2 separate regions of the Homo sapiens genome follow, and region 1 is linked to region 2. Evidence: fine-mapped expression QTL. Tissue or cell type: testis. Region 2 holds a variant in brackets; the other region holds the start of a gene. All regions are shown on one strand. Distances are between the middles of the regions.

Evidence for each region.
Region 1: PXDNL starts here. The variant in region 2 is fine-mapped to the expression of PXDNL in testis (GTEx, PIP above 0.99).

Annotation. Positions count from the first base shown.
Region 1 is chr8:51,807,482-51,812,997 of GRCh38, forward strand. It overlaps PXDNL (peroxidasin like), which reads right to left and starts at 1,964. Exons shown (of 23, transcript NM_144651.5): 1 at 1,700-1,964. The coding sequence starts at 1,863. RefSeq lists enhancers at 1,337-1,859, 1,860-2,381.
Region 2 is chr8:51,358,174-51,363,173 of GRCh38, forward strand. All of the region lies in intron 19 of PXDNL (peroxidasin like), which reads right to left. Among named protein-coding and RNA genes, the nearest start is that of PXDNL, 450 kb to the right of the region's middle. The variant GA/G (reference allele first, on the strand shown) is at 2,442.

The DNA.
Region 1 (5,516 bases), 450 kb after region 2:
GGGTGGGGACACAGATCCAAACCATATCAAACACTGTTAGCATCTCCATTTTTACAGATTAGGAAACTGTGACACCAAGAAGTTAAGAATTTGTCCAAGGCAACACATTTTGTAAGTGGTGGCACCAGACTCCCAGACAGGAATCTAGCCAAGGGCCTGAGAATCCACCATTAAGCTTTATTTTTAAACATAGTGGAAGGCTCTGCATGACAACACTGACAACATCACTTCAGTTCTGCTCATTACATTTAGAGGTGTGTGTCTAATGCAAGCTAATCTCTTCTTTGAAACACCTAGGAAACAAAATTTAGGTCGAGTTGTACCTCATGTAGCTCCAAGATACTTCATTAGACAAGCAGCCCCTTCTCCAAGGCTTTGCTGCTATCTACCAAAAAACTGTCATTACAAAAGGACAAATGGCTGGTTCTGAGTCTGAAGGCACTTGCAGAACTGTGCTGTCCACATAGCAATAAGCAGTGCTCCCAAGTTCAAGAATCCTTTCAGTTATTACAGTAAGACGTATTTTGATATCTGCATGCATATAAAATTAATGAAATGCTTTATAGAAATGAAAATCTATGGATAATATGTCATTTTCTATGTAAATACCATCAAATTGGACTTTTTATTACCAAGTCCTCATTTCACGATTATGACTGACAAATGTGTGGCAATGATCCTCTTAAACATTTATATCTCAAAATTCCAGGAATTTTAAGCTATTTCCCTCTGCCCAAGAATGGACTTGAAACACTGCAAGCAGTTTTGTCTTCCATGAACATGACACAACCCACAAAATATTTATTATAGAGCAGGAAACCTCTTTAGTCTGCATCTTTCAGCATTTTTCCTTTTCTTCTTTTATTTTTTCTTAAATTTTTGAATTTGTCGTCTTTTTCTTTCTTTAAAAATAGACCCTAGAAACAGATCCTTTTCTTCTTTTGTGGTGATTTGCCCTTCTAATTATCTAATTATGACTTAATTTAATCTAAATAAATCTAAATGTTTGGGTTTATTATCTGAATATTAAAGATGAGAAGATAGGATTTGAACTCAGACCTGTTTGACTTCCAAATTCTGGTTTGCCCTACTATCCCGTAATGCCTCCTAGATGCCGATTAGTCTAAGCGGCTGCTCCACAAGGCTTTTAAGCATTCAAGAACTCTACTGGACCATTTGAGGGTCTGTTCTGGAGACAGACAGTGCTTCAAGTGCTGAGGGCTCAGGACTTCACCCTCCCAGGAGGTACACACAGTACAAAGCCTAACAATTTGTCAGCACATAATCAATTGAAACCACACTCTAAAGTTAAATTAGTTCCTTCCAAATGGGGCAGACACGTGCTGACCAATTAAGAGGCCCAAAGACTTGGGAGTAGAGGATGAATAGGAATAAATTGAGAAAGTATGCAGGAAAATTATTGAAGGAAGAATGAAGACGAGAATTCTCAATGCTAAGTTCTGGAAGATGCTGGAAGAGAACTGAATCCAAAACAAATATATTTATGTCAACTCATCATTGCTTACATTTTCTAGTCTAACAGAGCAGAACCATGAAATTGTTTGAAAAGTGAAAAGCCTCTTCTAAGTATACAAGCAGGGAGAGCATTAGGAATCGTAAATTAAAAGGACACAGGTCCTAGCAGAGAAGCAATGAAGCATTGGGGAAGAGGGTTTCTGGGGAATTTATGTGAACTTACAGAACTGTGGTCTGCTGTGGTACCTGAGGAATGTGGTCCAGCATCAAGTGCATGCAGCGGACGGTGCTCTTAAAGCAAAGGCACCGGCTGGGGCAGGGCAACCCTGGCAGGCACCACCCGGCCAGGAGAAAGAGAGTGGTCCAGCAGAACAGTCTGGGCTCCATCGCTCCATTCGCTGCTGGCCACGCGAAGAAGCAGCCGGAGGGAGAGCAGCAGCTGCAGCTGCAGCAGCAACCGCAGTGGTGGTGATGGTGGCTGCTGGACTGAGCCAAGTTTGGGAGCCGTGGTGGAAAGCAGCTCCCAGGGAAAGGACACCCCTCTGACCAATCCAGGAGGAGGGATATCACATTACAGGGCTGAGGGCACAAGCAGCTCTAGGAAGCACTAGACTCCCAGAGGCGAGGACGAGAAGCTTTTCAATGCAAAAGCCTCTTTCTAAAACACCGTGTTTTAGGCAGCATAATGCAAACAAACTTTTCCAAAATTACTTCCACTGCGCATTTGATGAAAAACCCGACCTCTTAGCCTCCAGCTGTCCTCTTGAAGCCCAAGTTGATTAAGAATGTATTGAAACAATGCAGAACAGCTTTTCTTCTTTTTTATCTGGTAACATTACCAAACCCTAAAGGGCAGGCAGAGTTCTAATTCGTTCATCTAGGTGCACATATTCTTTCTTTATTCCAAACTATGCTCTTTAATAAAAATTGTTTCATTTCCTTCTATATATTCTGCTGCTGAAACCCAACACATTTCACTCATGTAAGACTCAAACGGGCTACTTCTGATTTCTTCTTTTAACGTTTAAATTTATATGCTTAAAACCATGAACTCACATACCTCCTTCAAGAGGATACAACTGATGGACAAACCTAAGTATGTATATGTAAAGTCAAACAGATGCAAGCTCCCTCAGGACACACTGGCAGCAGTGGTCTTGCTGGTTGCAGACTTTTCATCAGCAGTTTGAACTGGCCATCTTTCCCTGAAGTGAGCAGCACCTCGTTGAGGACGTGTCTGAAAACTTAATAAATATGAAAACATCTACTTTTTGGTCATTCTGTAAGCAGGTATTTTTAAACAGATTTTTGGCTTTATCTTTAAAGACTAACATTTTCAAACAAAAATGTTTTAAATCCATAAAAGTAATAGAAAACAAATTAAAACTTGCATGGTCAATCCCAGATGATCAGACTAGTAGACCAATCTTAAGAGGAAAATAAGTTCATCCTTGTCTCTGCAGAAATGTTTCAGTCCCTTTACATTCTACTGTAGGCGAATACTGCCCTCTTTTGGCAAAATGTTCATATCTAAATATGTGATTTTGGGGAGATTAAAATGTAAAAAGATCTAAAAAACAAAACTAATCTCCATGAACAAGAATGATTTATTTTAAACTTTACATTTGACATTGTTCACATGACTTTTATTGTCCAAGTATACCAATAAAGCCAAAAAACGAAATTTATTCCTTTAAATCCCAACAATCACTATGCTCTTGGCAGTGCCTGTGATTTGGAGGACATAGACAAGACCTGCAGGTTTGTGCCTTGTTTGCAGTTCAAAATATAAAATACAAAAAATATAAATAATATAAAATATATAAAATACAAAAATATAAAAATATCTTGCATTCATAAAGTAGACTTAAAAAGGGTAGGGACTCAGAAATATGTAAGTTCAGGAGGGAGAAAAAGGCAAGACATGCGGTTCTAAAAGTCATTGAGCTAAGGGTGTATAATAATTAGGTCGAAGGAAAAAAATTCTGCAAGTTTTTGTGCCTTGTTTTCAGTTCGAATTATAAAAAAAAATCTAGCATTCATAAAGCTTTTTTTTTTTTTTTTTTTGAGATGGAGTCTCACTCTGTTGCCAGGCTAGAGTGCAATGGCGCAATCTTGGCTCACTGCAACCTCTGCCTTCCAGGTTCAAGCGATTCTCCTGCCTCAGCCTCCTGAGTAGCTGGGATTACAGGTGCCTGTCACCACACCTGGTTAATTTTTTGTATTTTAGTAGAGACAGGGTTTCACCATGTTGACCAGGATGGTCTCGATCTCCTGACCTTGTGATCTACCCGCTCTGGCCTCCCAAAGTGCTGGGATTACAGGGGTGAGCCACCGCACGCAGCCCATAAAGCATTTTTTTTACAGAAAAAAAAATACAAAAAACTTTCCACTTTAGAAACCTAAACTTATGTTGAATGAAAAAAAAATCTACTGATTACCAACTGTCAGTACAGGACTAAGAACTGCAAGGCATGGCCCTGCTCAGGAAGTCCTTTTGGATAGTGACTTAGGACAACTTTCCAGCTGAAAACGACTAAATGCGCTAATTTATTAAAATACCTTTAAAATTGCATAAATGCATCAATGTGCTATTAATGAGGAAATCAGTAAGACATATACAAGAGTCCAAAAAATGAAGTGAACATAAGAAGCCAGCAAGGTGGGTAAACAATGAAGGCCGATGCAGCTTGAGACTGTTCAACCTGTGAAAAGAACTGCAGGAATTGGAGTAGCAGGGATACAGGAAAAAGAAAAGTCCTTTCTTATGAGAGAGTCTTATTTCAAAAATCTCCTGTATAAAGCCACAGCCATATCTTAAGGATGAACTAGAAATAATTCTGCCCCCTGCCTCCACTTCCACCCACCCACCTACCTATACAACCCAGAAGACACAAGTAAAATGACCTATTTCAAAGCTTGCTACGGGGAGGCAGCAAACAAATCTTCCTGGAGGCGTGCTATCTCCAAAGTAGCCTTCACATGGATTTTTGGGCCACTCTACTTGGATGGCACAAAAAACTTTTAGGTGGAGCATTTAAAAAGGTCATAAGTTGGCAGTGCTCCTTGGCAAAAACAACCTGGGGCCTCTAATAATTCCCACAGTTTACAATACAAGCTCAGTCAAAACCCACAAAATACAAAAGAAACAGAAACAGTGTTATGAAAGCTAGCAATCAAACCTTATGAACATGAGCCCACTTTGAGCGTTCACATACTGGAATCCAACATAGAATAGAATTAGGCAGTATGTTTACAGAGTTGAACATATTAATAAAGAGTAGAAGACCATAAAAACAAACAGGCAGACTTGAAAACACAGAACTATAAACTAAAATACAACAAGCATTAAAACTCAATGTAAAGGTTTAACAGCAGATTTAAAGCAACTAAAGAGAAGATTCGTGATAAGAAGATATTATCTAAGGAAATCTAGATTTCAATGCTGAGAAACATAAAGTTGAGACAACATTTGTAAGAAAAAACACAGCCAAGAATTTCTAGAACTGATGAAAGAGATGAACCCGCACAGCTACAAGAATAGGCAGAATAAATGAAAAGAAATTCATACCCAGGCACATTATATCAAACTACAGAAAATTAACAGTGCCAAGACAAGAATATCAACAATGTCAAGATGAAATCTTTAAAGCACACAGAAGTAAAAGACAGATGACCTTCAAAGGAATGGCTGTCAGTTGACATAATAGCTACAATGAAAGCCAGAATGCAAAGAAATCATAATTCTTGTGTTTTAAAGTGTTGATTTAAAATTCTATAACAAATGGACATTTTTTTTCAAGAACAAAGTCAAAATAAAACATTTTCAGACAGAAAAAAATAAGAGTTAGCTACAGTCTTTCATTAAAATAATTTGAAAAGATGTACTTTAGGCAAAAGGAAATTGAGATGGTCCAAAATGAAGAAGAAATAATGAGCAAAAAACAAGTGTAAGTGGGAGTAAAACTAAGCATTGGTTAGATAAATAATAGTTATGGTGTACCACAGGGGCTTAAAATTATATAGTTCAAACACAATAG
Region 2 (5,000 bases):
GAAACCTAATGAATTATCTTTAAATGAAATAGATTCTCAGATGATGTGGGCTCAGAGCCCATGGGATTTCATCTTCTCTCTTCCCAGGCTAAAAGACAGGAGGGGGCTAGCTGAAACAGTAAACAGGTAGTACCAGTTTTGCTTTTTACTTACGATAATCCTGAGGATCCTTCTAAGAGCTTTTTCGTCTTCAAAGAAATCAGTGTTTTAGAACTGAATTCCAGGTCACCCCTTGGTTTCAGATCAAAACTGGTTTTCTCAGACCTTGTGTCGGTACATTCCTGGCCCCCATAATAGTGTGTAAAAAAATGATTAAACAGGGTCTTCTGTGACCTTGAAAAACCAAATATGCTGATTAATGCTGTCAGACAGGAAAGCTCACATGCCTGTGCTCTCCCTGAAGAGCTCAGGCCTTGATCAGCATGTACCTCAACCAAAGACAAGAGGAATGGTCTCGCCTGGCCCCAGCATGAGGTCCTCATCACAGGACGCTCATTGCAGCACGCGGACAATGAGCTCACAGGGATTTGGGAGCACGGTGCCCTGAAGATGAGCACCCCAAAGATGGGCCTTCTTCCCCTCCCCCACAACCCCAGGGGACAGGCCTCCCCTGGGCAAGTGGCATAGGAATATAGAGGCCACAGTGTGCTTGAGAGGACAGGGGAACCCTGGGGAAAAATGCAGCACACAATCCTCCTAAAGGCTGCAGGCCTGGGGGAACCACGCCCAGCCCTGCTCAACTGAGGACTCAGAGCAGCTTACCTCTGAAAGGGCTTCATGTTCAGATTTCTGGCCGAGAGCTTCTGCCCTCAGAGTGTGCAGTGTGTCTCCACTTCTCAGAAAGCCAAGAATGAACTGAATAAGTGGGTTGTCTTCCTGCTTTAGCCTACGGGAGGCTGATGTCATAGCCCAGCCCAGTGAACCTGTCTCCTTCTGCTAGGTTTCTGCCATGGAGATAAACTTGACAACTTGAGCCAAGATAAAAAAAGTCACTGTCCATGAAAGGGTCCCGAATAGTTATCAGAGAGAGGAGCCACTTTCTCAGTGAAAACATGACCCAAGAGACAGAGATGACAAAAGAACATCTGTTTAAAATAGTAACAATAATAAATAATAATAATACAAACAGGGCATTTCCAATGCTGCAGAAAATGATGTCATAAAACTTAAACAGATGATCAGATGATGTTGGAACTAAGAAGTTAAATAGATAAATTTAAAAGGAGGTTGATCTCTGTTGAGACTGATTAGTGAATTTGATATAAGTGGTCATGGGCAAAAAATATATCAGAGCATTTAGCAAAAATATAAAAGAGAGTAATATGAAGGAAAAGAAAAGAGATTTGGAGGGTAGACCTAATGCTCAAATAAAGAACGTTTCAGAAGGAAAAAAAAATATTTGGAGGACACGTACAGATATATACAGTAAATAAGGAAATATATGTATAAATTTCCCCTTGTTGAAGAAATATGCAAATCTATGAATTGAAATTGTTCCCTAAGTTTGACACTGGATTGATAAGGAAAGTTACATCTAAGCATATTCTGCTCTAATTCTGAACAAAAGATCTTACGGAATCCCATTAAAAAAGCATTAGAGAACCCTATTTAAGCAGGGGAAAAAAAATCCAGACTGGCACCTATCGCACCTATCCATCCAATTGCAATATAAGAAACTAGAAATCAGGAAAGGAACACTGGCAAAGAATGGGAAAGACCACAGTCCAGGAATCCTATGCAAGTAAGATGCTCTTCACTGTTCAGCGGGAAAAAGATACTTGAGTACAAAATGCCATTTGTAGAATACTTTACACAAGTACTCAATTTGAAAGCATTACTTGATAGGCCACTTTAGGAAAAGAGAAAAGCAAAAAAAAAAAAAAAAGCAATGAGTAGTAAAGGCAAGCATTTTCCACCTATATATATGCACACACCTATACATGTGTACACTTACTCATGTGTATCCCAGACACGTATATACCTATACATGCATGTATACAACCATTCACGTATACACTTTTGTGTACACATATAAACATACCCATACATGTATACAAATATGCATGTACATACCCATATGTGTACACATCTATGCATGCATACACTCAAACATGCATACACCCATACATGTGCATGCTTACACATGTACACACATCTGCATATACACACCTGTACATGCCTATACATACAATACCTATTCATGCATATGACTATACATGTACATATGCATAACTTAAACATGCATGTATCATACGTGCACATAGCTATACATGCCTATACAATACATACATCTACATGTACATGTTTATGCATACACATGTATATATGTACACAACTACACATGCACACACCCATATGTGTACACACTCATGCATACACATACCTATCCACGTACACAGTTATATACACACATACATACGCATGTTGTTAAATTAGGTTTA[GA/G]CCAAAGCTACTTCCTTACATATTTTAAGTTCAGCCTAAATGTTTTTCCAGACATAGTGAACTGTAACCTAACTGGATGTGTAAACAGACTGTAGTCTACTCTTGTGTCAATCGCTAAGTTTTGGCCAATCAAAGGCAGCCAACTCTTTCAAACTGTGTTCAATAATGCAAATGCTGGTCTGGAACCAATCTGGCTGTTTCTGTACCTCACTTCTGTTTTCTGTACATCAGTTCTCTTTTTCTGTCCGTAAATCTTCTTCCACCACATGGCTGTGCTGGAGTCTCTGAGCCTACTCTGGCTCAGGAGTCTTCTTAATTCACAAATCATTCTTTACTCAGTTAAATTTGCATAAGGTTTTTCTTTTAACAGATGGTGTCAGAAGTGGGACCTGAAGTAGAACTTCCTCCGATGCCCAGAAGCAACATGTGACCAAGTGAGATCCCTGCCAGGCCCACTGTGGCCACTGCTTTCTCACAGCAACTGGGGATCATGGTATTCTCTCTCAGATTCCAAAGCTCCACGGATTTGTTTTTAGCTCTCTGAGTTTGAGCAAATTTTTTTATCTGAACTGGGTTCAGAAAACACAACAGAAACTGGACTGGATGCAGAATCACGTTGGATCTGATATTAACTGGCTTGGATCCAGTTAGAGGCCTCTTATGTCTGACCCAGTCAGACAGAAACTGATAATAAATGGAAATATTGCAGAAGGTATAAATTTCAGCTTTTGCAAATTCACAGGGATTTTTGTGTTCTACCCCTTCCTTGCACTTTTCTCTTTTTGGTTGCTCAGGTAGAAAAAAAATCATTGACTAAGTTGATCAAGGAGATCTGATAGCCAAAGCCAAGATGTAAGGTAAAAAGGAGATCCTTAGTTTCTAAAGAACTGAATAATCCACCTTCCAGCTATGCCTACATTTGCATGTATAAATATCAGACTCTGGAAGCAGCAAACACTTATAGAAGTGGTAAAATCTTACTAAAGGTAATTTAAAATTAGAATGCAATGTTCCAAATGAATAATACCACACTTTAAGCAGTGCATCTGAAAATGAGAATTCCTGGCTAGGTGCAGTGGCTCACGCCTGTAATCTCAGCACTTTGAGAGGCCAAGGCAGGTGGATTACTTAAGGTCAGGAGTTTGAGACCAGCCTGGCTAACATGGTGAAACCCCATCTCTACTAAAAATACAAAAATTAGGCAGGAGTGATAGTGGACACCTGTAGTCCCAGCTACTTGGGAGGCTGAGGCAGGAGAATTACTTGAACCGCAGGTCTTGCCACTGCACACCAGCCTGGGCAACAGAGTGAGATTCCATCTCAAAAAAAAAAAAAAAAAAAAAAAAAAAAGAAAAGAAAAGAAAAAGAAAATGAGAATTCTTAAATTAGTCTTAACTAGGGATGCCTATTGATAGGCAAAAGCTTCTAAAAAGATTTTAATATCTTTACTGTTTTTTAAAAGAGACTTTTTACAAATGGCAAATAAAAAGTTTAAGTGACTAATTGATAAGAAAATATCTGTTAACATTTTGGTTTAGTTATTATTCTGCCCCAAAGGCAAAAAGAAAGCTATCCTAAAGTGTTTACAAAAGATAAGACCTCCGGTAAAGTAGGCTTGCTTCTTTCTCACAGCAATCCATGCTGAATCCAGTCATGGAAAATGCTTTCTTTGCTCTATTCCTTAATGGGCTCCATGCTGAACTCAGTAATTTTAGCTAAGAAATAGTAGCTAAGTTAAAAAGAACACCCATGGAACTAAAATATGCCTTTCTGGAATCTAACTGGCTATCTTTAAACCTTTTTGTAAAAAAACCTACATTTATAAAGGAAATCTCCATTTTTAAGGATATCTGCCTATGTACATTAGAAACTCTTGCCATTGTTTTCAATTTACATAACAAGTCAAACCTTTTTTAAAGTGCTTTTCAGACTATCTTGTCTTAACTGAACTTTTACTTCCACTACTTTTTTTTTGGTTTGAGCTGATGATACAATATTTAGGTCTAAAGTCTTAGCTCTGTGCTGTTGAAATACAGATTTTCTTGTTTGGCCTGGGAGTTGGCCCTTTAGAAGTACAGATTTGGAATTGCCTGGCTGGCAGTTGCTTAGGGCAATGAAGCATGTGATTGAAAGAGGGATAGTCTAAAGAGAGAAAGGAAAAATTATTTATAAGCTAGCTTTATGAAAACTAGAAGATCTGCTTCTGTGTTCATATGTGTACTATATATGTTAAGTGTATGTGATAAAATTTGGTAAATAAAACTAGTTTTTAAATTGTTGGCAAAATATGGTTTCAAAATTGTCAGTTAAATATAAGTAGGTACTTGTTTGATTTGACTGTGAGCTTACGGTTTGGTTTTGAGAGTCTGGATTCAGTGATCTGGACAGATGGCCATAGTGAGGCCTGGGGCAAAGTTCTCAGTTCCTAGAACAGCAGCTACCAGCCAGAATCAAGCCCAACATGACCCGTTCTTCCCTGGCCCAGTTTTGCCTCCTGGCTATTCTGGGAAGGGTTGTATCCTCCAGGCATCCTCCTCACAGCTGTCTTCCGTCCTGAC